Homo sapiens: one gene and its partners. The protein of the gene in region 1 purifies or fractionates together with the protein of each later gene. This does not show direct contact. Each region holds a gene or a part of one and is shown in the gene's direction. Other genes may lie near its edges.

Region 1 (4,199 bases):
TTTACTGACATATTTTCTGGGTTTTTTTTTCAATTATTTTCTTTTTACAGCTCAATTCTTTCATCTGATAACTGTTTCTGCCTGAATTATATCTCTAAATTGGGTCTGCAGTTAGAAAAATTTGTTTTTACTGACTGAAAATATCTTTATCATGCTCTTTTAAAAAAGAAATGTAACTTATTAAGAGGGTTTGTCAAAAAATATAGGTTGATGTCTTCTTTCAGTATATTGGAGACATAGTTTCAATATGTTTTAGCTTCACAGTTTTTTTAGCTCCATAGTTTTAGCTTCCATATTTGCTATTGAGAAGTAAGATTGCTTTTAATATCCTTGTCTTTTCTTTTTTTTTGAGACGGAGTTTCGCTCTTGTCACCCAGGCTGGAGTGCAGTGGCACAATCTTGGCTCACTGCAACCTCCACCTCCTGGGTTCAAGCGATTCTCCTGCCCCAGCCTCCCAAATAGCTGGGCTTACAGGCACCTGCCACCAGGCCTGGCTAATCTTTTTCTGTACTTTTAGTAGAGACGGGGTTTCACCACATTGGCCAGGCTGGTTTTGAACTCCTGACCTCAGGTGATCTGCCTGCCTCGGCCTCCCAAAGTGCTGGGATTACAGGCGTGAGCCACTGCACCCAGCCCAAAATCTTTATCTTTTGTTCTGCAATGTGACTAAGATGTTTTAAATATGATTTTTTTGTTTTTCTTTGAGACAGAGTCTCACTCTGTCACCAGGCTGGAGTGCAGTGGCGTGATCTTAGCTCATTGCAACCTCTGCCTCCTGGGTTCAAGCAATTCTCCTTGCCTCAGCCTCCTGAATACTGGGACCACAGGTGTGTGCCACCACGCCCAGCTAATTTTTGGATTTTCAGTAGAGACAGAGTTTCACCATGTTGGCCAGGATGGTCTTGATCTCCTGACCTCATGATCCACCTGCTTCGGCCTCCAAAAGTGCTGGGATTACAGGAGTAAGCCACTGCACTCTTTAATTTATCCTGGCTTGTTCTTGGATCTATGGATTGGTGTATTTCATCAATTCTAGAATAGGCTCAGCCATCAAATCTTCAAATATTGTCTCTCTTTTTTTTTTCTTTCTGAAAGTTATGTTAGATATGTTAGACCTTATAATTCTATCCATCATGTCCTTTGACCTCTTTTATATTTTCTCTTTGTCTCTCTTAAATTTTGGATAATCTCTTCCAATCTGTCTTCTACTTCACTAATTCTTTCTTTAGCTGTTAAGCCAATTCATGAAGGTTTTTTCCATGTTTTAATCTCCAGAAATTCTGTTTAAAATTTTTATGATCTATTATTTTACTTAATTTATTTAATTACTTTTAAAACATAATTCTTTTGTATTCTGTGTCTGATAAAAGCAGTTATTGAAGTCTTTCTGGGTCTGATTTAGCCTTCTGCTGTTTATATTGGATCTTAGCATGCATTGTTTCCATATGTAATCTCTGTCTCTCTGTCTGTCTCTCTCTGTCTCTCTCTCTCTCTCTAATTCTCTGTCTCTCTCTCTGTCACACACACACACACACACACACACACAACTTCTATTTCTCTACCTCTAATAGTTTTTATTATGAGCTCATGTTTCTTGCAATTTTATAATGATATTTTGAGGCCTAGGTTGAAGGTGAGGTCATTCACTTTTGCTAAGTGCTTGAGAGCACATCTTGCACTGGACCTCTTTAAACTAAATTATCATCTTGAGGTTTCTCAGAACACAGAGGTATTGAAAACTTGGTCTGCCAACTTGTGTATTCATTGGCTTGCCATTGAACATTTTTGGGGCAGCTTTCTCAACTCAGCACCCAAATCAAAGGCTAACAAATCTCTCTGTAGATTTAGGAGTAGATTTAGTGATTTTAGAGAAAGCATAACCATTTTGGGCACTAGCTTTATGTGAGGAGATTTCTATTAGACTCTCCCTCTAAGCAAACTCTCAGTTTTGACTCCTGTCCCAACAAGGGCCAGTCATCCAATTGTACACTACATAATGCCAGGGTGCATCTTTCATATAAACTATACCTTTCCTGTAGATATACGTTGTAGTCTATATGAAAGGTGCCCTTTGATAATGTTCAGTTTCCAATCTGCACAACTGTATATGATGGTTCTGTCTGTATTCCCACAAGATGGTGAAAACTAAAGTTCAAGTTCACCAGGTTCAGCAAGTGCCCTCCAGGTGAAAGCTGGGTTTGGTGCTTTGGTTTTATAATTCCATAACTGACAAAATTTGAATAGAGTAAAGACAGTGCCTCCTCCCTTTCGAAGTCCTTAAAATGGTAGGTATATTGATATCTTATGAATTGAGTTGATTTGCCAGTCATGAATTCAACAAAAATACCTATCACTTGCTTCATTAAAAGAACTGTAACATGATGAGAGTGTTTATTGCTTTGCTTTGTTTATTTTTAGATGTGGACTTTCCAGTTTTTCTCCAGCCTACAAATGCAAATGAGAAAACACAGCTAATCAAAGAAGGATCTCGAAGTTATTGCACAGACTCTTGATATTGAGCCCTCAGAGAGTCCACAGTCCCTCCTCTCAGTTCAGTCTTGTCTCCAGATGGTCGTAGGGGAGCGTGTGGGGCATAAAGTGCTGTGAACTTTTCCATCTTGTTGTTTTATTTTTGGGTTAGGAAAACATGATTGCTATATAATTTTCTCAGTATGCAGACTTTCTCTCTGAGTAGAATTTCTTATGAAACACATTCAATTTGGGTGAATAAAGGCCTGAAGAGTTATTTTACCCTCCTTGCCTGATGTAGGACAGTGGAATTGTACAGCCTTTATGAACCTGCCCTTTATGTGTGGCAGATCTGATTCCTAACTGACCAAAGTAATATTCCAGAACAAAAGCCACTTTTCTTACATTTAACACAATATTCATATCTACCACGAACATGATCATCAAAATATATGAGAACTTATAAAGAGTTTTTGTGTGTGGAGCCTCTTCCGTGTCAATATTCAATAAAGTTATAGAAATGTTTCAAGAGCCAGAAAGGGATGATTTTTTTTTAAATCACATTTTTAAGGTATATTTTTGGAACATTAAAAATTGGCATTTACTGAAAACTGGAAACCAGGAAGAAACAGGTTTTGTGTGTACTTTTAGATTGGCTTAAAAACAAAACAAAACAAAACTTCAACCTGGTTAAATGTTGTAAGTGAACCAGAAAATCATTCTGAGCCTGAACCCGCCCCATCAGCATGTTGATCATTTTCTAGTAAAATAATTTTTGTATAACTGGCTCAGATTAGCCAGACTAAGGGAAAAAAAACAGATGAAGGGGTAGAACTCTATACTCTAGAGCCTAAATTTACACCAAAACATGTATCACCTCATTTTTGTTAAAATTAGTTGCCTTGACCAGAAATTGCTCAGCTCTGTGCATGTTACACAATTTAAGCCCAGAGGTCATCTCTGCATTTGCTTGTTTGATTCTTGTATTTATTATGTGGTAGAAACCATGTGCTATTTCTAAAATACTATGGCAGAAAAAGTGTTCGTTTTTCTAGCTCTTTCTTACTTTTTTATATAATATTGCATTTTCAAGATCTTGTTATGTTTTTATATAATATTGTATAAAATGCCTTTATCTTTTTTCTTGTTTCTTATTCCCACCCAAAAAATTATAGTTAATTGCTGCTAAATATATATTGTAAGTGAGAATTAGTGTTATAGCTCTGATAGTTCTGAGGTCATTAAAATTCCACTCTAACTCTTTAGTTACTGAAATTCTTTTTCTAGGCAATCAAGTAGACAGAGCCTTGGTTTGAAAGCTAAGAAACCTGGTTCTAATCTAAGCTTTCATTAACTAGCCTTGTGACCAAGTGAGATGAAAATAACATGGCTAATCTCTCTATGGCTCTGTTTTCATATCTGCCCTGACCACCTTCCAAGTTGCTGGATGACCAGATAAAATGGCTGAAGTGAAAGAAATCTGAAAAGTCAAATGTTCAACAAATGTAAGGTGGTTTTAAATGAATTTGTATATGTTGACGCACACAGACAAATGTACTATGACTCTTGATGCATATAAACTCTCTCACCCAACAAGACCCATGGAGACACCCAGTATTAACAGCTCCAGTAACCAGCAAGTGCTTGGAACGCTGTATTCAACAAACAAATGCTACTTTCCATTTGGAGGAAACAATAGGATAAATAGCGCAATCTGTGGATAATTTGA
Region 2 (3,836 bases), on another chromosome or scaffold:
GGTTCACGCCATTCTCCTGCCTCAGCCTCCCGAGTAGCTGGGACTACAGACACCTGCCACCACGCCTGGCTAATTTTTTTTTTTTTTTGTATTTTTAGTAGAGACGGGGTTTCACCGTGTTAGTCAGGATGGTCTCGATCTCCTGACCTCATGATCCGCCTGCCTCGGCCTCTCAAAGTGCTGGGATTACAGGCATGAGCCACCGCGCCTGGCCAGCGCTCTGCACTCTTTTACTGGAAAGTGGGAGGAGGGCTGAGACTTCTGAATTGTAATTTTTAAATCTACCTCCTGTTAGTCAACAAGCATTTACTTAATACCAATTAAAATCGTATGTGGTTTTAAAACTATACCAATTCTAGTAATATATATATGTTGTAAGAGACAGTGAAGAATTTTTACCGAGTAGGAATATGGTTGTTGATTTTTGTTTTCATTAACTTTTAGGGAAATAGGGGATCAGTGGCATTTGGCAATTCAAGAAGCAATTTTAGAAAAATGCAGTGATAATGATGGCATTGTTCACATTGCAGTAGACAAAAATTCACGTGAGGTAAAGTAACTTTTGGTATTGAATTTCATGTTTTGGATTTGTTGCTATTAAACTAAGACTATTTTCTTTCTTTTTTAATATCACAGGGTTGTGTATATGTTAAATGTCTGTCTCCAGAATATGCTGGAAAGGCTTTTAAAGCATTGCATGGCTCTTGGTTTGATGGTAAGAAATTTGAGTACTACAAACATTTTGAAAAGATAGTTATAGTTTAATTTTAAACTATACCAGATTTCAAATAAAAGAATTTAGGTTAGCATTTTTTTGAGTAATAATTTTAGATGACTTTATTTATGTTTTGTGCTCATATGTCTTTTACCACAGTTAATTTTCTGCAAATATTAAACAGTTTTACTGATCTAAAATATTATTTTTATCTTACAACAGGGAAATTGGTTACAGTAAAATATTTACGACTAGATAGATACCACCATCGCTTTCCCCAGGCTCTCACTTCCAACACTCCATTGAAGCCATCAAATAAACATATGAACTCCATGTCTCATCTTCGTCTTCGGACTGGCCTAACCAATTCTCAAGGAAGTTCCTGAAAAGATTTTCTTCCATTTCTAAGACTGTTATTTACAATAGGAAAATTCCTGTTTGGCTTTTTGTCTTCCTTTTTAAATGCTTTTTGTATGTAATATTTTTATTGATGAATACATCTCTGAACGTTCCAGAAGTCTTAAGGTTCCAAAGGGATTTAGCAGTGAGGCAGCAATGCTGAGTAGGTAGGATAATTATTTCATTCAGTTTTTGGAGCTCAGTTAAGCCAATACATTTAAAGTTTTGCATGAGGAACACTGACTTTATTAAGCATTTTCAGATGTGGTGGTTGTATTTTTGCCCCAAGAAGTGTTTGGATAACCACACAAAAGCATGATGAAAAGGCTTCTTGTAGTCCCATAATTTCTTGTGAACTAATGTTGTGAATTTTTGTATACAGTCACCTGCATAGTTCCTACAGGCTAATGTGGTAAAACTGTTGATTTCCCAATTTAACCTTAGGTTTCTGTTGCTTATAAGCGATTCATTTGCTACGGCTGGAATATGGGAAAATTAATTTGGGCTTAGTGGTTACAAATATGTGTAAGTGGATGTATATGTACTTAAACTGGCTTTGTATATATGTATAAATGCTGGTGGTGGTGAAAGTAGTCTTGTTTTATGAGGATGTCTGCATTAAAGCAGTAAAATAAGCTTTCCATTTTATTCATAATCTAATGTGTGTGTATATATGTATGTGTGTATGTGTGTGTATATATAGATGTATATATATACACACACAGAGATATATACATATGGCTGTACTTTTGCATAGATCAAACAGCCAAACACCTGGAAGTATTAGATACAAGTTTAAAATATCTTTTATAGGTTTTATATAAAAATGTCTGAGTATGATTTTGTGTGAAAGTTCTGATACCAGTTGTAATAGAGTCAAATTTATGTGAGCAATAAAGAAGAAATTGGCAGATATTGGAAAAATATTTTGTGAAAAGCTGTATTTATTATAAATACTAGGGCCATGACATAGTACCATTGGGGTTAAGTCATTTTCCCAATCTATTTATAATTTAATGATATGTTAGTGCCTCTGTTATATGTCAAGTTTAAAGCAGGGCACATTGTTGCAGCAAAATGTGTATTTGACAAATTATACTTGCAATTTTGGGTCATGAAAGTTTGCAATATAGTAAATGCACGATTGACTGTTGCTTTGTGCCTCAGTATTTAATTTGTTTCAGTAAACTTACTTTATTACTGTTTATGATTTCAGATAAAAATAGTTGCTGAGTAAATTTTACTTGTAATCTACAATTGGCTTTTTAAAAATAACCTGTTGATATATAATTGTCAGTCCAAATGAATATGTGAAACAGCTGGAATTGTACAAATTTTGGTTGTATTTAAAGCTCAGTTTCCTTTTTGTTTTATTGTATGCGTTGGGTTTGCAGCATGAACTTGCACAGATAATGCACGTTTTCTGGTTAAGTAAACATGATGCACACTATTCTGTAACAGAAAGCCCTATTGTGCCTTACCTGTGTGCTTTTGTGGGCACCTTGTTTATGAAGAATAAAAAATGATTTGTTATCTGAAGAGAATAAATTTTAAATTCTCAGTTTATGTCTCAGATGCTAACGTGTGAAAATATAAATATATATAATATATAAAGTAACCAGTCTTCCTGTATTTTATGTGCATCATAGTGATTTATCTGAGCTTAGTGACCCCCATCTTGTAACCTGTTGCAAGAGTGAATGTAAAAAATAGTTGTGGCATTTTAAAAGGTCGCCTTTGATGCAGATGCATCTTTTTCTTGCTTCTAAAACATATTTCATGTAAACATTGTACATTTATTATTGTAATATATACTATTATGCAGCTTATTTTACCTGAAACTGTTAAGCCGACCAAGATCCCTCCCTGCAAGACAGATGGGAATGTGTATAATAACTAGGTATTTGAGAAGTTCTGAAGTTTGATGTAATCTGTTACTTGTCCTGTTAAAAAAAGGAAAAAATTCTAATTAAAAATTTATTAGTTTTTTTTTATGTGTCTTGGCTTTTTAAAAACATTTTAAGTGCCCTGTGTCTGTATTTATTTTTTTACCAGTGAAAATAGGTGTCTTTAGTTTAAATGTTTGACAGCCTGAATATTTGTGCTTATAAAGATGAATGAAGACCATAAAGTTAATTTTAACTATCCTTCCCCTCAGCATTTTATTTTTCCTTATGAAAATGTCTTCATCCAACTTTCAAGTATTTGAACCAAAATGGGGCAAGAATGTCAATCAGCTACATCACAAAGCATTAGTTCTGCTAGATACTTTTTCACAGCAAGACTTTCTTAAAAAGGAAGCATTTCTTTTTCTTTTAACATTCTGACTTGAATTCTATTGCATTATAAACTATTAACAGTTCATAGGCTAGTTACTTTACATAGCATTGGTTTAGACTTTTTGATATGTTAAGTAAAAAGAAGACTAGTCAGTCATGTGGTACACTTATTGATTACTAACAAATGCCAAGTACTGTTATGTGTTAGGGATACAAAGATGAAAAACACATGACCGAATCCTCAAGATGGTCACAGTCTAGAGGAAGAACACAGAGCAGATAAAAGATAATGTGGAAAGTACAGTGAGAGCAAAACAGGCAGAGGAACTCTGGGAGTAAAGAAAGGCACCTTATGCATCTTAATATAGAGAGAAGACCTCAGGGCAGGTGAGGCAACAGCTGAGCCCTATTTTAATTCAGTTGAACACTTACTACCTCTTAAT
Region 3 (4,199 bases), on another chromosome or scaffold:
TGTGCTTCCCGGGTGAGGCGATGTCTCGCCCTGCTTCGGCTCACGCTCGGTGGGCTGCACCCACTGTCCAACAAGCCCCAGTGAGATGAAGCCGGTATCTCAGTTGGAAATGCAGAAATCATCCGTCTTGTGCGTTGCTCACGCTGGGGGCTGTAGACTGGAGCTGTTCCTATTTGGCCATCTTGGAACAGGAATCAAAGGAAATTTTTTAAAAATCCCATTTATGATAGCATCAAAAAGAGTACAATAGTTAGGAATAAATTTAACCAAGGATGTAATAATGTGCACACTGAAAATTATAAAACATTGATGAAAGAAATTCAAGAAGACACAAATCAATGGAAAGATACCTTATGTTTATGGATTGGAAGAATCAATATTATTAAAATGTTCATACTGCCTGAAGCAATACACAGATTCAACACAATCCCTATTGAAATTCCAATGGCATTTTTCACAGAATAGAAAAAAAAATTCTAAAATGTGGATGAAACTAGAAGACATTATATTAAGTGAAATATACTAGACACAGATAGATAAATACTGTATGATTTCACTTATATATGGAATCTAAAAAAAATGTTCAGTTCATAAAAGCAGAGAGTAAAACAGTGGTTGACAGTGGGTGGGAGACCTGGAGAGATGTTGGTCAAAGTGTATGAACTTACAGTTGTAAGATGAATAAGTTCTGGATACCGGACATACAGCATGGCAACTATAGTTAATAATAATGTATTGAATATTTGAAATATGCTATAAGAATAGATCTTAAGCATTCTCACCACATACCCAAAAAAGTAACTATGTGAGGTGATGGATATTTTACTTAGCTTGATTGTGGTAATAATTTCACAATGTGTACATTTATCAGAATATCACATTGTATACCTTGAATATATACCATTTTTATTTGCCAATTATACTTCAAGGCAGAAAAAAATAAAATTAGAGTAGAAACAAAAGCTTGGAGGTCTGAAATGTTACTAAAAGTGTAACATTTTCCTTTTTTCAATATTCTTGCCACATGGTGGGTAGGTCCTTTTAGTCTGAAGATTCAAGTCTGTCTTATTTGGGGGATATTTTCTTCAATTAGTCCCTTGATTATTGATCCTTCTCTTTTGGCTGTATTCTCTCCTGTGACTGCTAATAGGTGTGTAAATCAGTACCAGGCACATAATAAGCACATGTTAAATATCTGTTGATCGTATAAATTGATCCTGGATTTGCTTGATCAGTTTTCCGTGTATCTTACATCTTCTTTCATGATTTACAACCTAGACATTTTGCTGTTTTCAGAACAAATTTTTTGAATTGTTACTGCAGAAGCTGCTTTTGCTCATTTATGTTCTGCTTTTAAAAAATTATGCCATTTTATTAAAATATAGTTTTTGGAATGTTGTCATGTTATCTAATTTTTTATGTCCTCTGATGACTTTGTTTAAAATTAGTTCAATTATGTCTTGTATCTGAGGATACTTATTAGAAATTTTTTTATTACTGTTATTCTATCTTGTTTCCCATATTAACTTTGTTCCATTAAGGACTGTTTGTCCCCATTGCTTTTTTTGTCTCCTCACTTTAACTGCTGTTTCTTCTCAAAAGTTCTAGTCAATGCATATATTCTATTCAACATATATATTTAGCTCTAGATGTAATCAGTTTTGGTATGTGCCTCCAGGTGGCATCCTGTGCAGTCTTCATGAAGTGAAACCCAAAGACTGGTGCCCCTGTCAGTTGTTCTACTGCAGAGACTTTGTGGAGTATGTGGTTGGAGATGAATCTATGGTTAAGGGAGTGGATTTTTTAAAACCAATATGTGAAGTATAATATACATAAAGTGCATCAACTGTAAGCATACAACTTGTTGTGTTTTCACAAAGTAAACATACCATGTAGAACCAACACCCAGATTAAGAACTAGAGCACGAACAGTACCCCAGAAGCTCCCTTCTCCCTTCTTTTAGTCACTACTCTTCTCCAAAGGTGGCCACTGTCCTGATTTCTCCACATAGATTAATAAAACATAGCAGGGGCCGAGAGTGGTGGCACACACCTATAGTCCCAGCTACTCAGGAGGCTGAGGTGGGAGGATCGTTTGAGCCCAGGAGGTCAAAGCTGCAGTGAGTCGTAATTGTGCCACTGCACTCCAGCTTGGGCGACAGAGCAAGACCCTGTCTCAAGATAAATAATAAAATATAGCAGGTATTCTGTTTATGTCAAGTTTCTATTGCTCAAAATGATGTTTGTGAGATTCATCTGTGGTAAATTGTATAAATGTAGTAGTAGATTGTGAATTGTCATTACTGTATTGTATTCCATGTTATGACTCTCCTGTAATTTATGCATTGCACAGTTGATGGGCATTTGGGTGGTTTCCAGTTTAAGGTATGAAAAGTAGTGCTGTCCAAAACATTTTTTTATATGTCTTTTGGTGAATTTGCATACATCTGTGGGACCATACCAGAGTGGATTGCTGGATTATTAGGGAGTTTTGTTGGTTGGTTGTTTGCCATTTTGTTTTAAACTCCTTGTGTCCTGGTGGGAATTGTTCAGTAGATACTGAGAAATTGATGATGCAAAAGAAAATGGATAGCAGAAGGAATGAAGTTCTATGGGTTTTGGCCCTCACAAAAGTAAATACATATCTTCCTACAGAAATCAAACAGGTTTTTATGGCTCAAAGCCCCGGAATTATACGGGGCAGAATAGGCGAATGTGCTTGCAGTCAGCTGGCTTTAAAAGAGCCTTTCTTATTGGAAGTATAGAGAGGAAAATTCTTTTCCACTAGCGGGAAGAACCACTTCTGGTGCTCAACATCATGTGCATTGCTGCAGTGGAGAAGAAAAAAGAGGGAAGCGTTTTCATTGGGCTCATACTGCTTATGATAGGCCTGGCAGAGTCTTGCTTTTGGCAACTATTGAGTATGAATGGCCAGTCTCTACTTGTAAAGAGAGGTCATTGGACTTAAATGGAATTAATGGAAGTAAAATGTTCTCAGGTTGTTACTGCAAATCATTCATGTAGTCAGTGCCAGGGGTTAAACAATTCTCGCCTCTTTTCTAGTCTGTCACCTTCAAAACTACCAGCAGAAATCTTGCTCGAGCCATGTGTATGAAGAACCTCAAGCTCACTATTATCATCATCATCGTATCAATTGTAAGTTTTTGTCCTTTTAGTGTATGGCTTTATTTTTCAATCTCTAAGAAATTAGGTACTAGAATTATTTCTCAATGATTAACACTCTGAAATGAGCTACATATGTCTTTTAATAGTGAAACACATGACCAGGCAGTGGCTTTCCTATGAAGTCACTATGAAATATCTCTACTTAAACCCCTCCTTCCTATTGAGAATTATTATATATTCTCAATAGGAAGAGATCTATAAAACTGACCTCACAGAAATGTAGTTATTTTAAATAAAGACATTTCTGGTTTATATGTAATGGGTTTATTGTTTTTATTTTTAAATTAATTATGTATTTTTAAAGTTTTAATTTCTAATATGGCAAATGCTGATAATTATAATCCCCCTTAAACAAGAACTCTTTGGAGTCCTCAGTAATTTTTGAGTGTGTAAAGAGGTCCTAAACCACAACTTTAAAAACTATTGCTAACAGGTGGGGGGTGCTTTACCCTGTTCATGGTCAGATAAAGTTGCCTTTCCTCCCCATCCTCCAGTCATGTCCAGAAGCCCAAAGTTACCTCCAAGCAGATAACTCTGACCCTGCTTCTCCTCTACCACAGCTTGAGGGTCCTCTGCCTTAGACAGCTGGATTTATCTAAAAGAGAAGAGCAGTCATAGATCTGTAGATTTTATACTGGAAGTAATTGTCATGGCCTTGAATGGTTCCTTGCTCAGGTTTCTCTTTCTAATATCACATTTTAGGCTCCTGAGCTTAGCTTCTTACTTATTATTTGGTCTGGGAGTTTAGGTTGATTTGTGCAGCTGAATTGTTAAATTCAGAATATATTTACTGATTACTTATTACATGCAGAGCACAGCTCTAAATGCAATATCAATCTTTGCGAAAAGGTGTTGTCACCTAACGAGATGTACTTCAGCTTGAAAAATCCTTATATTACAGCTGTGACAAATAGTCAACTTTACATCAAGTTGGTAAACTTTACATTTGTGGCATGTGTATGTGTGAGTATGTGTGTGTATGTGTGAATATGATGTCAGAAGTTCAACCTATT
Region 4 (4,199 bases), on another chromosome or scaffold:
ACATAGCTTCTGGTCAAGTGCAAAGGAACGAGGCGCTGTGACTAAATGCTCAGTGTGGCTAGTGATGCAGCTGTCAAGAAAGCAAGTATATTCTCACATAGTATTACAAGGATTTGAGTGTCCAAGCAAAAGACAACAGCAGCTTCTCTGTCCTCTACACTGGTGTTTGCTCTGTTTTGAATTATATCCTTTTAAAAGAGAGAATGACAAATGGGAGCATGAACAGAGGAACATGACCAGGAAAATGTTATATAAGGACAGTGTTGCTGTTTATCTTGGAGGTATGATCACTGTCTTCCAATTTCAAGTGTTTGGAAGTCTATCATTTGGAAGCCAATGCACTATGTAGAATGGGCACTCAGTAAAAATGTATTGAACCAATGAGGGGATAAGCTTATGTAGGTTAGATCTAAAAGACAGCTACTGTGCAGATCTAAAGGATCTAATGAATGAAAATCAGTTGGTTGAAGTTATAGAAAGGCAAATTTTAGCTCCATATTGAGAGACTTAACTGCAAAAGTGTTACCAGCTTACTGGGAAGGCTGTGTGTCTATAAACTATAGTCCACATCTGAGTGCCTTAGATAAAGCATTCTTAAATTCAGGGAAGGGAGAGTATGATTCTCTCCAGGGAATCAGAAAAGATTGCAAGGAAGGAGGGAAAATATAAGTTAGGTTTTAATCGCAGTTAAGACTTGGATACCCTAAAAGTGTGGTTTTAGAAGAAAATGAGAGGAAGTAGGGGACATTTTAGGTCAGTGAACCACACAGGCAAGAGCACCAAAGCAAGGAGTGTCTTCAGCTTCTATGTGAGGTGATAGGGTGTAATTCACTTTACTTGGAGAGTGGTGATCCAATGATTCCCCTGCCATTTGTTTTGTAAGTTAATCAAAATAGGAGCCGAAAATTCAGTCAGCTCAGCGTGCAGGATCATTGCATTATGAAACTGAACGTATTTTTGAGAACTGAACGTATATATTTTGAGTCGTGTGTCGATCAGGATTTCATAAAGAAATTATGATGTGATTCTTTCACAAAGGATCTTGCCCTATGTACCTTTAATAGTGTCTTTCTGCAAACATGTATCTAATATATAGGGAAATACTTTTATTTGGAATCTCTGAATCAAGAGGGTTGTTTCTTTGAATGATTTTGTTAAAATGATCAAAGAATATTTTTCTAGATGCTCACAGGAGAGCCACAATTACACCATTAGAGATAAATTTATTTGGTCTTGAGTGTCACTTTTCAGGATGTTCCTCATAAGTTGCAACTATTCCTATCAAGTATTTAATATGAGCTTCAACTAATAAGGAAACATTAATTATTAGCCAAGTGGGAACAAATTCCAGTAGGATTAGAACATAGGATGGGAAGAGATTTAGGGGCAGGGACATGTGTGCATAAGGAAGGTGAGATTCTTAGGTGCCAATGATGAAATTTGCTTACATCATAATTACATTATTTTTAAAGGAAGTTTGGTGTATTCCTTAACTTGGCTTTAACATTTAGCAGGAGCCCCTTTCTATTTCAGTTTCATTTTCAGCATAGTAGCCTTTCTATACTTTTTCTATAAGACTTGGGCAACTGATCCAGGCTTCACTAAGGCTTCTGAAGAAGAAAAGAAAGTGGTGAGATTTCTTCGTTACTGATATTTTTAATAGGAGGGTTTGTAAACTTTAGAAAGTTTATATGCACATATGCAGATGTGTTGCTTTTTGTTACGGCTGCATGACATGTGGGGTGATATAGCAAAAATTAGATTTCCACTCTTACAGTTTTTTCATTTATGTATATGAAAGTTTTAACACATATTTTTATTTTCTGTTGAAATAATACCCCACCAAGACTTTTTCAGATGTGATTCCTTTTAGGAATATGATCTCCTACTTCCTTGTAATAACATTTTCATAATGGTCATTTAGCTTACATTTCCCCACTAAATAAATGGAGAGTAACTAGTCAGTGACCAGGGAGAGTCCTTCTGCTTATTGGCTGAGGAGATGCCCCTCCTCCTCCTCAAATGTGAAGTTGTCAGATGACATGGCATGTTTTCCGTTGCTCATGAATGTTTAGAAGTTGGAGAATGTTGTCTTTGTTACCTAAAGCCAGTGTTCCTGAAAGACCCAGCCCTTGGTGCTTGTAACTTTCAGTTTTGATGTATACTGGTGGGTTTTTCTTTTTTAATGTGTGTGTATATTTGCATATTTATTTTTCTCTAGCAGATCATAACTGGGAGATGATTGCCATTCACAGAGATGAGGTGATAGGTGGGAGTGGTGGGGTGGTATAATTTTTATGCATCCTAATTTATTAGCTGTTGGTTGAAAATGCAACCTTGAAGAGTCACATCATTTCAAGCACAGAATGATTTGGTGGCAAGTATTCCAAATTGCTTTTCTAACTACTTCAGTTTGGAGCGAGAACTGTGAGAATGGTGTATAACCATGCATAATACATTTTCCAATAAAATGTGGTAATAGGTCAAACTTCATGTCTTTCAGAATATCATCACCCTTGCAGAAACTGGCTCTCTGGACTTCAGAACATTTTGTACATCATGTCTTGTGAGTTTTTTCATATAATTTTTTTCCGTAGTGAAAGCAAAGTCTTGGTAACGTTGCTGATGTAAGCATTTGTCAGATCTTCATGGTATATTTATACACCTTTGTTTTTACCCATTTCTAATTTTACATTCCTGTCTGAACAGCTTTCTGTCTTGAACATATGGCAGAATGATGTTTATAATCTCTTGAAGTTGTCTCTGGTTACATCTCTCCGTGAATTATCCATTGTGTGTTTTATTTGCTTTTCTCTGTCATGAAGCATATATTAGAACTAACGTCAAATCAGAGGCTCATAATGACCTTAGAAACCACTTAGTGAAACCTCTCATTTTGCAATTGAGGAATCAAGGGAGGAAGTAAATTCTCCCAAATTATTGGTGGTGCTAAAAATGGAACTTGGGTTTCCTTCCCTTGGTTGAGTGCTTATTTTGCTCTGTGGTACTGCCTCATTTCTGCTTAGCCAGTGTGAACAGGCTCTGGAATTCAGATCCCACTTAGTGATGTCCTAATCAAAGTAGACATATGGAAGTAAATACTAATAAGGCATTCCACAGCCTCTGTGTGAATTGATGGTCTGTTTAGGATTTGTGCCAATGCCTCTGTGACCTAAAGTTAAAATTTTGCTTGTGATTTGTTACCACTTTGAGACACTGGTTTTTGCTTAGGCCTCTCTTAATTGCCCACTTAGATAAGGAAGCCATTAAGGTCACTCCACTGCCATGTATGCAACTGCTGTGTGGCTCGATATGATCAACACTGCCTGTGGACTGGACGGTGCATAGGTGAGAGATTTAATTTTTCAATTACTACTGTGAAGTTAAGCATATGTTTAGTTATGACTCACAGAAAAAGTGGAAGGGCATCCTAGGGCTCCATTTTCAATATTCTAGTATTCCAATAGCAATGGGCCCATGCATCGTTATTATGCTACAGGTAACATAATATTTGCACATGCATCATTCTGTTTGGTAGCCACAGGCCTGTGAAGTAGACAGAAAAAATATTATCTCCATATTACTTGTAAAAACGCTAGATCAGAGAAGTTAAAACACTTAACTTACAGTGACACAACTAGTAATACATAAGCCTAGGTCTCCTGATTCCAATGGGTGTTGTTCCTTCTGCCGGGTTTTGCTGCTCCAGGAGAAGGTCGGACCATGATGTAGTAGCTGAGGAGTATTTGTGTCATTAGCATTGAAATGCTCCCATCTCCAGCATTGAGAAGGCAGCGTGTGCAAGAGAAGACTTAGCTGCCTTGCCCTTCCCGCTTTCTTCCCTTCTGTAGAAGTTTCTCAGATTGTGGGTTGCCACTCTTTGCATGTCCAGTAGCAACATGTAAATTTGTTGCTGCTCCTCAGTTTCGTTTTCTGTGTTCCCCCTGATTAAGTCAATCCTTGATATTCAGAGGTGGTGCTTTTACAAACATGTTACATGGAAGGAGGAAAGATACTGGGTATGATTTGTCCAAAATCCCGCCTGGTTCCCTTACTTCTGTCACAGGATAGGACAGCCTAGCTAGAAAAGTGTTTGCTTAGTTAACTTTATTCTATTCCAGAAGTTGCACTTTTACAAACATGTTGCATGGAAGGAAGAAAGAGACAGGGTATGATTTGTCCAAATTCCTGCCTGCTTC
Region 5 (3,903 bases), on another chromosome or scaffold:
TCCTAAACTGCCCGTGATTTAAAGAAGCTTCCAAAATACCTTCCACGGGAAATTCAAGCCCCACCCCACTCCGCAGTGATGTGTGGCCTTTGATAGGAGGTCACAGAGCCTTGTGAGGAGTTTGTGTAGGCAGTCCTCGATGTCTCAGAGCACGCTCCATCCACATCCACCCCTGGCTTGCCGGGACCCAGACATAGTTTGGTCTAAGTGGCCTGGGATGTGGCTGGGGCTGGAGGCGGCCTGTTGAGGGGTGGGTGGAGGGTGGGGGGGTTGGTGTGCGATTTGGGGAGGCCCAGCAGGGACTCCAAGCAAGGGCAAGGGCTAGTTCTTTTTTTTTTTTTTTAGCTGCAATGGGTAGGGAGGGGCTGATGGTTTTGGAGCTCGGTGTTTGAGATGTTAAGTCTGCTGATGCTCCTGGCCGAATAAAGGCCAAATAAAGCCCTTTCTTTCCTCAACTCGATGTCTGAGGGTTTTGTCTGTGGCTCGTCCTGCTACAATTTCTAACGTTACCAGTAATTTTAAAGCTAGCTTATTAAAGATTCTACTTAAGTCACATGAACGTGAAAAGCATTTAGGCTTATTATTTAATTTATGAGTACTCTTTAAGTTTAAGCTAAATTTGGTAACTTGTGGCCAAAAACACATAACGAAATATGTGTATGTGCACATATACACACATACACACTCAAGCAAAAGTATGGTTTTACTTCAGAACTCCAGCCATGAGATAGTAATACAAATTCATTGGTTTACACAAACAATAAAAAGAAATGGTTGGATGCAAACAGTGGATTTTATCTCTGTAGAAAAGTAACAGCAGACTTAAAGCAGGCAGAAACGAAAGCAGAAAGAGAACTTAAGAACATTACATTAATAATTGCAGGCCCACCTTTGGGCTCTGATTTTTCCTTTATGTAATTTGCAATTTGTAATTCATGATCCTTGTGCCTGAGGGCTCCCTTCTGCTACTCAGTCTACAATTCCCCGTCCCTGTGAAGGGGCACCCAGGCCTGACAGCCCCAGACTTGGCTTTGCCAACCCTCCAGGTCTCTCCTGCATGGCTAGGACCCAACGCCTAGGTCATCCAGCACTCACCCCAACCAAAGCCATGGGAATTGCTGGGACCCGGAAGGTAGGGGGTGGCACATGTGTGCCCTGTGCTCTGAAGCTGCCCCTACAGGCCCTGGAATCCTCCCCGTGTCTCAACACACTACCCTCTGGGGAGTCAGTTCTCCCCAGAGTCCCCGTTCCTGGGCCTGGAGGGCTGCTTTGGGGCAGGAAACTTTGGCCACCAGGCCTCTGACCTGCACCAGGAGACACTGGGAGGTTTAGTCCCCAAACCCGCACAGAGCAGGACTGCAGCCTGAGGAAAGAGCAAGGATTTCAGGAGAGAGGCCTGCGACAAGTGAGGTGAGGGCTTTTGGGGGATTGTCCTGGCGCCTGGAGTGTGGGGGCCTGGCAGGGGCCCTGAACCGGGACAGTGAGGTCCTGTACTTGCTGGCCTGGGGTGGACAGAACCCAAGCCTGGGTAAAATCCCCAGGGCCCCCTAAACCCAACACTTAGGAAGTCACTAGTCCTGACTTGAGTTTCTGATGAGGAAGCCTCTCTCCTTAGCCTTCAGCCTTTCCTCCCACCCTGCCATAAAGTAATTTGATCCTCAAGAAGTTAAACCACACCTCATTGGTCCCTGGCTAATTCACCAATTTACAAACAGCAGGAAATAGAAACTTAAGAGAAATACACACTTCTGAGAAACTGAAACGACAGGGGAAAGGAGGTCTCACTGAGCACCGTCCCAGCATCCGGACACCACAGCGGCCCTTCGCTCCACGCAGAAAACCACACTTCTCAAACCTTCACTCAACACTTCCTTCCCCAAAGCCAGAAGATGCACAAGGAGGAACATGAGGTGGCTGTGCTGGGGCCACCCCCCAGCACCATCCTTCCAAGGTCCACCGTGATCAACATCCACAGCGAGACCTCCGTGCCCGACCATGTCGTCTGGTCCCTGTTCAACACCCTCTTCTTGAACTGGTGCTGTCTGGGCTTCATAGCATTCGCCTACTCCGTGAAGGTGCGTATGGCCCTGGCGGAAATCCAGGGGGTGCCGGTGAGCCTGGGGCTCCACCTGCCCACATGCTGCCTGGGGTGGGGACTTGTGTGTCCCTGTGACTGTGAGTTTGTGTGCACCTCTGCCCCGTGTGTGCTCACGTCAGTAGCTTTGTCTGTGTGATCTGTGTGTGTGTGTGGCTTTGGGGAATCTGCCCAGTGCAGGTCTAGGAGGAGGCTCCAGGAGGCTGGCTGGCTGGCTCAGAGTCTGTCCCTGGCTATCCATTAGCCCAGAGCAATTCTCCCTATAGCCCAGTAAGAAATTACACCCTCACCTTCCAGACTGGCACCCAGGCTCTCCCAGAAAGTGAGAAGGGAACTCACAGGTGACTTCACCCCATGGTGGGGAGAACAGCCTGTGCTGGGGCCAAGGCAGAAGGAGGATGAGCCCCGAGGCTCCTGGAGAGTCTGAGCCCGGGTGAGGAAGGGGAGGAGGTGGTCCCTGATCTCAGGGCGGGGAGGAGACGGAGCCATAGCACGCGGCTCTCAGCTGGGGGATCCTGGTCCCCTCACCATCTCCTCTCCCCCAGTCTAGGGACAGGAAGATGGTTGGCGACGTGACCGGGGCCCAGGCCTATGCCTCCACCGCCAAGTGCCTGAACATCTGGGCCCTGATTCTGGGCATCCTCATGACCATTGGATTCATCCTGTTACTGGTATTCGGCTCTGTGACAGTCTACCATATTATGTTACAGATAATACAGGAAAAACGGGGTTACTAGTAGCCGCCCATAGCCTGCAACCTTTGCACTCCACTGTGCAATGCTGGCCCTGCACGCTGGGGCTGTTGCCCCTGCCCCCTTGGTCCTGCCCCTAGATACAGCAGTTTATACCCACACACCTGTCTACAGTGTCATTCAATAAAGTGCACGTGCTTGTGATGATGCTGTGACTTCATCTGGAGTGGGGGCCCTGCTGAGGGGTCCCGGCCTAGTCCTGAGACAGCCCAGTGCTCAGCCCCTGCACAGCCGTATCCCTCCTCTGTGAAGCTCTCAGGGGAGCAGGGATATGCTCAGAATCTGCTGGTTTCCGCCTCCTGCTGTGGGCAGCATCTGGACCAGGAACGTGGGGTGGGCATTTCTCTGACACCAAGGTAAGGACACACTGTCCAGAATACCTTTGGGCCAGGACAACCTGCCTCTGAGCTGGCTGGGCAGCTGGTCTTGCAGATGTGTGCACCTTAGGCCCTGTGGGAGGGGCAGGGGCTTTGTTCCTAGGGTAGCAGCTGAAGGAACCTCAGGGCTGCAGCCTCTCCTGGGTGATCCAGGTGTGCTGGATCCTAGCAGCTGCCTCCTCCAGTCCAGCCGGCATCTTCCCTGCTCCCCTGGGGTGGGGGCAGCCAATGGCCCGAGGGTGGGGCGCTCGCGAGGGCCTGGGAGGGCAGCTTCCGACCGGGAGCCCCGCGGGAGCTCGGGAAGAGGGTCCCGCCAGGTGGAGACCCCTCTGGTGCAGCCAGCGAGGGCCCCGGGATCCCGCAGTCTTGAAATGTGACGGGAAGTCCGAGGCATCACGAAGTCGGAGACGCAGGGCGCGTCGTGGGTCCCGGGCGCCGAACGCCAGCTCGCCACGGCCCAGCAGCGCGGCCAGATCCCGGTCCCCACGGGCGTCGGGGGTGCGCGGGCCGCGGGGAGGTGAGAGGCGGGAGCCGAGAAGTTTCCCAGACGGCACCCGCGGGAGCAGAGCTGGTCGGCCTGGCCGCTCCTCGCCGCGGACTCCTCGGGTGCCCGTGGACAGCAGCCCGTGCCAGGCCCGCAGCGGCCTTGGGCCTCTCCTCCTCTGCAGGGGAGACTCCG
Region 6 (4,199 bases), on another chromosome or scaffold:
TGGACCGTGCCCTAGAATTTGCCCCTGCCTGCCATCGCTTCAAAATCCTCAAGGCAGAATGTTTAGCAATGCTGGGTCGTTATCCAGAAGCACAGTCTGTGGCTAGGTATGCAGTCAGGCTAGCTGGACATTAAAATGCCAGATACCATTGGACTGATGGTGTCCGGCAGCTTCACCACAGGATATGGTCCCCAGAGTAGGCCAGCTAGGGCTGATCAGACCCTCTTGGGACTTAAAGTCAAAGATTAGACCAGCTTTGAAAACCCGTAGGGTATACAGGAGTATAGTAGTATAGCAGGTACTTGAGCTATATATGAAAGAACAGATTGTGTTTTTGTGGTTTTGTTTGTTTGTTTAAGGTAGTCCTTTTCCTTCTACTCCACTGGTTGGCACACTTTCTGCAAAGGGCCAGATTTTAGCCTTTGCAGGCCACAGGGTCTCTGTTGCAACTAACTCAACTCTGCCATTGCAGTGCAAAGGTTGCCCTAGATAATAGATGAACCAATGGGTGTGGCTGTTTGAATAGTGTTTTATTTACAAAAACCAGTGGCAGAAAGGATTTGGCCCTGTGGGCTGTAGTTTGCCAAACCCTGTTCTAGTTTAATAAGGATTGTAAGACACAAGATGTGTATTAAAGATAATTATAGGTGGTTTATTTGGGGAAAGTTTGGGAACAGTTCTTGGGAATCTGTCTACCTTTGGATATTTTGAATGCTAGACACATGGTCAAGGAGGAAAACTGGCCACAAATGGTAGTAATGGTGGGGACATTCTAAAGCACAGCTCAATGTGCCCTTTTCTGACTATTGCAGTGACATTCTACGAATGGATTCCACCAATGCAGATGCTCTGTATGTACGAGGTCTTTGCCTTTATTACGAAGATTGTATTGAGAAGGCAGTTCAGTTTTTCGTACAGGCTCTCAGGATGGCTCCTGACCACGAGAAGGCCTGCATTGCCTGCAGAGTAAGTTCTAGTCACCAGACCTAACTGGGAAAGAGCTTCCTTTTGGGACCTTTAAGATGGCTAGAGTGGAAGGTTTTAGAATCACAAGGAATGTGATAGCTTTTCCTCCTGCTTTGCAAGGATGCTTGGTCTTTATTAGAAATGGTTTCAGGACTACTTGTATTTACCTAAAGGTAGATGTGATCATATAGGGTCGGATGCCTTTAATATCTAAGAGGGTTTTTTTGTTTTGTTTTTCCCCTCAGTGAAGATAGATAGTAATACTTGTCCTGAGAAGTGAAGGCAGACCCAGTAACATAGGTCTCATTGGTATTTTTGGTAACTCTTTTCCTGTCCACTCTGTAGGAAGCTCAAATGAGCAACAGATAGCCCAGATTGGGGGTTGGCGGGGCTCTGTGATGCTGAACTGCTGGAAGCAAAGAACTTGAAAATAGAGTCTGGCCTCTCTGTGCAATGGTCTGAGGCTTTGTGGATATGAACCGATCCTCCCCTTGCTTTTTTCTGTAGAATGCCAAAGCACTCAAAGCAAAGAAAGAAGATGGGAATAAAGCATTTAAGGAAGGAAATTACAAACTAGCATATGAACTGTACACAGAAGCCCTGGGGATAGACCCCAACAATATAAAAACAAATGCTAAACTCTACTGTAATCGGGGTACGGTTAATTCCAAGGTAAGCTCTTGATCTAGATCTTGGGGCCTATAGAAATATTTTTAAGGGACATCAAAGGGTCTTGGGAAATCTGCCTAGTGAGGGTAAGCAAGATGAAAGAGGGAAAGTTGTTATGGTTAATAGTTTGTTAGGAACTCCCTTCCAAGAGGCAAGCTTTTGTCATCTCTATGGAATTTGAGGGCAGTTGGACAATTTGCAAGGATATTCTCACCTGTTCATTAAGGTCCCTTTCCTCCAGTAAGAGAATGGCTAGGGTCTGTGGGATAATCTTAAGCACCTACTGTTGCTTTTTTGTTGTTTTGCTTATGCAAGTGATCATTTATTTTTTAGGAGTGATTTGGAGGAAGAGTATGAGGCAAGCTTGTTTTTCTCCAGTGTAATTGATGGTCACCATGCATGGTTGAAAATGGCCTGAGTGCTTTTGTGGCCCTACCCAACATCAGAAACAAAAAGTAGACTCCTTGCCCTTGCAGAATTCTAGCAGTTAAAAATCAGAGTGATTTCTGATCCCTGCAGGTGACCTCTGGAAAAAAGGAGGGCAGGAACCAGCCTTACTATTTTCATGTTTTCATTGGGCACTAACATGGAATGGTAAAGGTAGTTTATCCTTGAAGACAGATGTGCCTGGCTTGTATCATATACAAGAGAAATCAATTTTGAAGTTGCTGTCCATAGCCCTGGTGACAAAGAACTAGAACTTAATATGACATTTAAGGGGCCAGCATGACTGATCCTCTTAGAGTTTTGAAGCCATGCTCACAGCTTCTGGGCTCCCTCAGTCACCAAAGGTGTGAAGTATGATTGCTCTCTCTCTCCTGAAGCTTAGGAAACTAGATGATGCAATAGAAGACTGCACAAATGCAGTGAAGCTTGATGACACTTACATAAAAGCCTACTTGAGAAGAGCTCAGTGGTAAGTGCCTCTGATGGGTAGGGGGAAGAGGGAGTTGCCGCTGGCCTCAGGGGAATTGCCTTGTGGATGACGAAGCAGACCCAGAGATGTTGTGAGGTCATTTGGTCCTTCCCCCTGCCTCTAGGTGGGATTGTTCCAGCCCTAGACTATCTTTATAGACCTCCAGCGGAGGAGATTGCACAAGCTCCCTCAGTCTCCCATGCCTGTGTCTAACGCCCCTCACGGTCAGTAAGTTTCCTCTGATGCCTGACCCAAATTCCTTTTGTTAAAAAGTTTAAATCCATTTCCTTTGGAGATTTTATTTTGTGTTGTACACTTATGCTCTACCCTGGCACAGTGCTTGACACATAGGTGCTCACTGAATAAATGTTTTGTTGAATGAATGTATGGTGCTTGGAAGAGAAAACAACTCTTGGAGACAGTTGAGAGTTGTACTTCATCCTGTTTGTTCTGGGCGAGGGAAGACAATCTTAGAGTTGGAAGAGATGTAATCCGGCTCAGCCTCCCAGGATAAAGGAACTTCCTTTTGAAACACCCTGGATGGCTACTCTCTGCTTGAGTGTTTTGAGTGGAGGGCACTCTGTGTCTGACAGGGTGATTATGAGCCAGGATGTGCCTACCTCTAATGCTCACATTTGCCCCAGAGTCAGGGTGCTCCCTGGCATGGTTGCTCCTCTTACTCTTAGACCCACCAGCTGGTTTTCTCCAGATAGGAACAGGGCTAGGAGAAATCTTTCTCAGAAATCCATCTCTTCTGATTTCAGATTATTCTCTAGGCGGAGAAAAACTTCCCGTCTTTAAAGTTCTTAGAGAAGATGTATTTATTGTATACTAATCCTCCAGCACCTGCTCCACTCCTTATTATAAAATGTCATATCCAAAGAACAGATGCTGTCACTGATGCCTGATGAGCCAGTAGTTTAAGCTTCCTTGTCTCATCAGTGGTACAGAATATCTCATGGACTACCTCCCACTTAGTTTTCTCAAAATTATCTCACTTAAAATAGGAAAACTGCTGCTGTGTGTGATGCTTTTTTTAAAAGTGAATTTCTAAGTTGATGACTAAGTCTGTCCAACAGAAACATACAGGGAATTATAACTTCTGTGAGACTGACTGTCAGTCATTCCATCTTTGCAAACCACTGGCACACAGAAGCAGAAGCTTTGGAAGACAAAAAAAGCACCCTTTGATTCAGCCAAAGACTGACTTTAACAGACGCAAAATGCTATATACATGAAGGTGTTTGCTGCAATTTTATCTATAATAGCAAAAAAAAAAAAAAAAAAAGGCGGGGGGAGAATCACCTACATGTCCAGTGGGAAGGGGGTGGCTAGATACTTGATACTGTATGAACTTAATGGAATGCTCTGTATATGGAATGCCAGGGGATGGGAAGAGAAGAGAAAAATCGCTTTGTTTTATTTTTTGGGATGGAGTCTCGCTATGTCGCTCGGGATGGAGTCTCGCTATGTCGCTCAGGCTGGAGTGCAGTAGCACCGTACTGGCTCACTGCAACCTCCACCTCCTGAGTTCAAGCGAATTTCCTGCTTCAGCCTCCGAAGTAGCTGAGATTACCGGCGCATGTCACCACACCCAGCAAATTTTTGTATTTTTATTGGAGATGGGGTTTCATCATGTTGGCCAGGC
Region 7 (4,199 bases), on another chromosome or scaffold:
GCCGAGATCGCACCATTGCACTCCAGCCTGGACAACAGAGTGAAACTCTGACTCAAAAAAAAAAAAAAAAAATTGTCATTTAAAATTCTGGTAGAGGCCGGGTGCAGTGGCTCACGCCTGCAATTCCAACACTTTTTGAGGCAGGAGAATCACTCGAGCCCAGAAGTTCAAAACCAGCCTGGGCAACATAGCAAGACCCCTGTCTCTATAAAAAATATTAAAAAATAAGCTGGGCATGGTAATGCATGCCTGTGGTCCCACCTCCTTAGGAAGCTGAGGTGGGAGGATCGTTGAGCCTGGGATGTCAAGGCTATAGTGAGCCATGACTGCGCCACTGTACTCCAGCCTGGGCGACAGAACAAGATCCCATCTCAAAAAAAAAAAGTTGAAAGAACTTCAAACTTTTAGAAAAGTTGTAAGAGTAGTACAGAAAACTCCCAAACACCCCTGACCTGGCTTCTCTAGTTAACATTTGCTCCATTTGCTTTGTCACTCACGTTTGGGACTTCACCACAGTCACCATCTCATCACCCTTACACATTTCAGTGTGATACTCTTGCATAAGTACAGCGATAAAATCGGGAGATTTATCAGGTCACACTGTTTTTCCTTGCTCAGCTAATATCTTTCTTTTTTTTTTTTTGAGACAGAGTCTCGCTCTGTCACCCAGGCTGGAGTGCAGTGGTGCAATCTCGGCTCACTGCAAGCTCCGCCTCCTGGATTCACGCCATTCTTGTGCCTCAGCCTCCCAAGTAGCTGGGACTACAGGCGCCCGCCACCATGCCCAGCTAATTTTTTGTATTTTTAGTAGAGACGGAATTTCACTGTATTAGCCAGGATGGTCTTGATCTCTAACCTCGTGATCCGCCCACCTCGGCCTCCCAAAGTGCTGGGATTACAGGTGTGAGCCACCGCGCCTGGCCTTTTTTTTTTTTTTTTTTGGTGAGACAGAATCTTGCTCTGTCTCCCAGGCTGCACTACAGTGGCGCGATCTCGGCTCACTGCAACCTCCGCCTCCTGGGTTCAAGCAATTCTCCTGCCTCAGCCTCCCAAGTAGCTGGGATTACAGGTGTGTGCCACCACACCTGGCTAATTTTGTATTTTTAGTAGATACTTGATTTTGCCATGTTGGCCAGGCTGGTCTTGAACTCCTGACTTCAAGTGATCCTCCTGTCTCGGCCTTCCAAAGTGCTGGGATTACAGGCCTGAGCCACCAGCCTTGGCCCCCATCTTAAGGTCTTTAATGTAATCCCATCCGCCAGGACCCCTTAGCCCGGAAAGGTCACGCATTCACAGGTTCCGGGGATCAGGATGTGGATATCTTTTAGGGCACCAGTATCCAGCTGCCACAACACCCAGGCTCTTCCCGTCCCTCCTCTGCCCAGAGCCTGCCCCCGGCACCCCAGTGCCCTCAGGCCCGCATTCATGTTCCTCTTGTCTGCTCGGAGCCTGGGTGGACCTTGGCCACACCCGCCCAACCCTGCCCTTCCCGTATGCACCCTGACCTTCTTGCGTCAGCATTTTTAGAAATTGCTGGCGTGCAGCCTTGGGACCTTTGTCCGTTCGCCCCGCTCTCCCGTGACATTCTTTCTCAGGGCTCTTTGCCTGGTCCATGGACCTTCCATCTCCCCTGGAATGTCACCTCCTCAGGGTGTCACCGCCCCGGCTGTCCTGTGTGAAGGAGCCTCTGTGTTATTTGTGTCCTTGGTATTCCTTTGTTCATCCCTTGGTCGCCTGTTCTCTGTCTCTCTAGACTGGGTGCTCCAAGAGGCAGAACTCTTTTGGTTGTTGTTGTTTTTGAGACAGAGTCTCACTCTGTCGCCCAGGCTGGAGTGCAGTGGCGCGATCTCGGCTCACTGCAACCTCTGCCTCCCAGGTTCAAGCGATTCTCCTGCCTCAGCCTCCTGAGTATCTGGGATTACAGGTGCCCGCCACCATACCTGGCTAATTTTGTATCTTTAGTAGAGACAGGGTTTCACCATGTTGGCCAGGCTGGTCTCAAACTCCTGACCTCAGGTGATCCACCCGCCTCAGCCTCCCAAATTGCTGAGATTACAGGCATGAGCCACCCCGCCTGGCCTCCAAGAGTCAGAATTCTGTCATCATTTGATTCCTGCTGTGTCCATAGCGGCCGGCGCTGGGTCAGCCTGGAATAGCGGCTCAACACACGTCCCTGGCACAAATAATGAATTTGAGATTCAGTTTGTACCTGTGTCCTGCACACCTGTCACTCCTCTGGGCTCAGCCAGGGCCGGAGCTGCCTCCACTGCAGCCTAGGTCTCCCAAATTCTAGCTGCCCGTGTGTGTGTGTGTGTGTGTGTGTGTGTGTGTGTGTGTGTGTGTGTGTGTCTTTCTGCCCACTTGACCAAGGGGTGTGTGTGTGTGTGTGTGTGTGTGTGTGTGTGTGTGTGTGTCTTTCTCCCCACCTAACCAAGGGCCACTGGAGGCCAGGGCCAGGCTGATTCATTTTGGGTCCAGCATTGCACAGCGCAGGCCTGGGCCCCTAGAAGCCTCGGGAGACATGCGTGCGGTAAGTGTGTGTTGGCAGCGTGTGCGCTGTCCTTTCCTGCCTGGAAACCCTACCCCTTCCTGACTACTTGGAAACTCCCATATGAGGGAGGCTGCACTTGTTTGCTGAGGCCGCTGTAACCAAGTACCACTGACCAGGTGCTTCAGCAACAGAACTTGACTGTCTCATGGCCTGCAGTCAGAGTCCAAAGTGAAAGTATTGGCAGGGTTGGTTCCTTCTGGGGCTATGAGGGAGGATCTGTACCAGGCCCCTCTCCTTGGCTTGCAGATGGCCGTCTTCTCACTGCATTTTCACACCATCTTTCCTCTCTGTGTGCCTGGCCCAAATTTCTCCTTCCATTATTATTTTTTATTAATTATTATTATTATTATTTTTTTTTTTTTCCAAGACAGAGTTTTGCTCTCGTTGCCCAGGCTGGAGTGCGGTGGCGCGATCTCAGCTCACTGCAACCTCTGCCTCCCAGGTTCAAGCGATTCTCCTGCCTCAGACTCCTAAGTAGCTGGGATTACAAGCACGCGCCACCACGCCTGGATAATTTTGTATTTTTAGTACAGATGGAGTTTTGCCATGTTGGGCAGGCTGGTTTCGAATTCCTGACCTCAGGTGATCCACCCGCCTTGGCCTCCCAAAGTGCTAGGATTACAGGTGTGAGCCACCGCGCCCGGCCTATTATTATTTTGAGACAGGGTTTCACTTCTATCCTCCAGGCTAGAGTGCAGTGGTGCGATCTCGGCTCACTGCATCCTCCCCCTCCCACGCTCAAGTGATTCTCCTGCCTTAGCCTCCTGAGCAGCTGGGACTACAGGCACACACCACTGCACACAGCTAATTTTTATATTTTTTGTAGAGATGGGGTTTCACCATGTTGCCCACGCTGGTCTCGAATGCCTGAGCCCAAGTGATCCTCCCACCTCAGTCTCCCAAAGTGCTGGGATTACAGGCATGAGCCACTGTGCCCAGTCATAAATTTCTGCCTTTTATAAGGTCACCAATCATGTTGGATTAGGGCCCACAGTAATGACCTCATCTTAACCTGATTCCCTCTGTAAAGACCTAGTCTCCAAATCAGGTCACATTCTGAGGTACTGGGGCTTAGGACTTCAACATAGAAACTTAGGAGCGTGCAATTTAACCCCTAAGATTGGTTGATGCTTTATCAAAAATTTTGATGTTTTTCTTTTGTTTGTATGTATGTATTTATTTTATTTATTTATTTTTCAGACGGAGTCTCACTCTGTCACCAGGCTGGTGCAGTGGCGTGATCTCGGCTCACTGCAACCTCCGCCTCCCAGGTTCCAGTGATTCCCCTGCCTCAGCCTCCCAAGTAGCTGGGGCTACAGGTGCGCACCACCATGCCCAGCTAATTTTTTATGTTTTTATTAGAGATGGGGTTTCACCATGTTGGCCAGGATGGTCTCAATCTCTTGATCTTGTGATCCGCCCCCCTTGGCCTCCCAAAGTGCTGGGATTACAGGCGTGAGCCACCGCACCCAGCCTTGTTTGTTTTTTTTAAAGAGTGGTTGAGGCTGGGCGTGGTGGCTCACACCTGTAATCACAACACTTTGGGAGGCCGAGGTGGGTGGATCACCTGAGGTCAGGAGTTCAAGACCAGCCTGGCCAACATGGTGAAACCCTGTTTCTGTTTCTACTAAAAATACAAAAATTAGCC

Evidence for each region.
Region 2: the proteins of DNAJC5B (region 1) and LEMD3 purify together in Homo sapiens (affinity purification with mass spectrometry; one large-scale study listed by BioGRID and IntAct). This does not show direct contact.
Region 3: the proteins of DNAJC5B (region 1) and VAMP7 purify together in Homo sapiens (affinity purification with mass spectrometry; one large-scale study listed by BioGRID and IntAct). This does not show direct contact.
Region 4: the proteins of DNAJC5B (region 1) and ZDHHC13 purify together in Homo sapiens (affinity purification with mass spectrometry; one large-scale study listed by BioGRID and IntAct). This does not show direct contact.
Region 5: the proteins of DNAJC5B (region 1) and IFITM1 purify together in Homo sapiens (affinity purification with mass spectrometry; one large-scale study listed by BioGRID and IntAct). This does not show direct contact.
Region 6: the proteins of DNAJC5B (region 1) and DNAJC7 purify together in Homo sapiens (affinity purification with mass spectrometry, with the first as the bait; one large-scale study listed by BioGRID). This does not show direct contact.
Region 7: the proteins of DNAJC5B (region 1) and NUCB1 purify together in Homo sapiens (affinity purification with mass spectrometry, with the first as the bait; one large-scale study listed by BioGRID). This does not show direct contact.

The regions. Positions count from the first base shown.
Region 1 is NC_000008.11:66,097,518-66,101,716, forward strand, and holds the end of DNAJC5B (dnaJ homolog subfamily C member 5B), read left to right. Parts: intron 1-2,419; coding exon 2,420-2,514; 3' UTR 2,515-3,728; downstream 3,729-4,199.
Region 2 is NC_000012.12:65,245,225-65,249,060, forward strand, and holds the end of LEMD3 (inner nuclear membrane protein Man1), read left to right. Parts: intron 1-444; coding exon 445-550; intron 551-636; coding exon 637-715; intron 716-937; coding exon 938-1,101; 3' UTR 1,102-3,131; downstream 3,132-3,836.
Region 3 is NC_000023.11:155,936,638-155,940,836, forward strand, and holds part of VAMP7 (vesicle-associated membrane protein 7), read left to right. Parts: intron 1-3,063; coding exon 3,064-3,156; intron 3,157-4,199. UniProt on the Homo sapiens protein: Involved in the targeting and/or fusion of transport vesicles to their target membrane during transport of proteins from the early endosome to the lysosome. Required for heterotypic fusion of late endosomes with lysosomes and homotypic lysosomal fusion.
Region 4 is NC_000011.10:19,161,798-19,165,996, forward strand, and holds part of ZDHHC13 (palmitoyltransferase ZDHHC13), read left to right. Parts: intron 1-1,505; coding exon 1,506-1,630; intron 1,631-2,503; coding exon 2,504-2,566; intron 2,567-3,254; coding exon 3,255-3,348; exon of another isoform or gene 3,349-3,350; intron 3,351-4,199. UniProt on the Homo sapiens protein: Palmitoyltransferase that could catalyze the addition of palmitate onto various protein substrates. Palmitoyltransferase for HTT and GAD2. May play a role in Mg(2+) transport.
Region 5 is NC_000011.10:312,282-316,184, forward strand, and holds IFITM1 (interferon-induced transmembrane protein 1), read left to right. Parts: upstream 1-1,758; 5' UTR 1,759-1,889; coding exon 1,890-2,075; intron 2,076-2,640; coding exon 2,641-2,832; 3' UTR 2,833-2,991; downstream 2,992-3,903.
Region 6 is NC_000017.11:41,986,171-41,990,369, reverse strand, and holds part of DNAJC7 (dnaJ homolog subfamily C member 7), read left to right. Parts: coding exon 1-106; intron 107-812; coding exon 813-966; intron 967-1,473; coding exon 1,474-1,638; intron 1,639-2,459; coding exon 2,460-2,551; intron 2,552-2,675; exon of another isoform or gene 2,676-2,775; intron 2,776-4,199. UniProt on the Homo sapiens protein: Acts as a co-chaperone regulating the molecular chaperones HSP70 and HSP90 in folding of steroid receptors, such as the glucocorticoid receptor and the progesterone receptor.
Region 7 is NC_000019.10:48,906,350-48,910,548, forward strand, and holds part of NUCB1 (nucleobindin-1 precursor), read left to right. Parts: intron 1-4,199. UniProt on the Homo sapiens protein: Major calcium-binding protein of the Golgi which may have a role in calcium homeostasis. Acts as a non-receptor guanine nucleotide exchange factor which binds to and activates alpha subunits of guanine nucleotide-binding proteins (G proteins).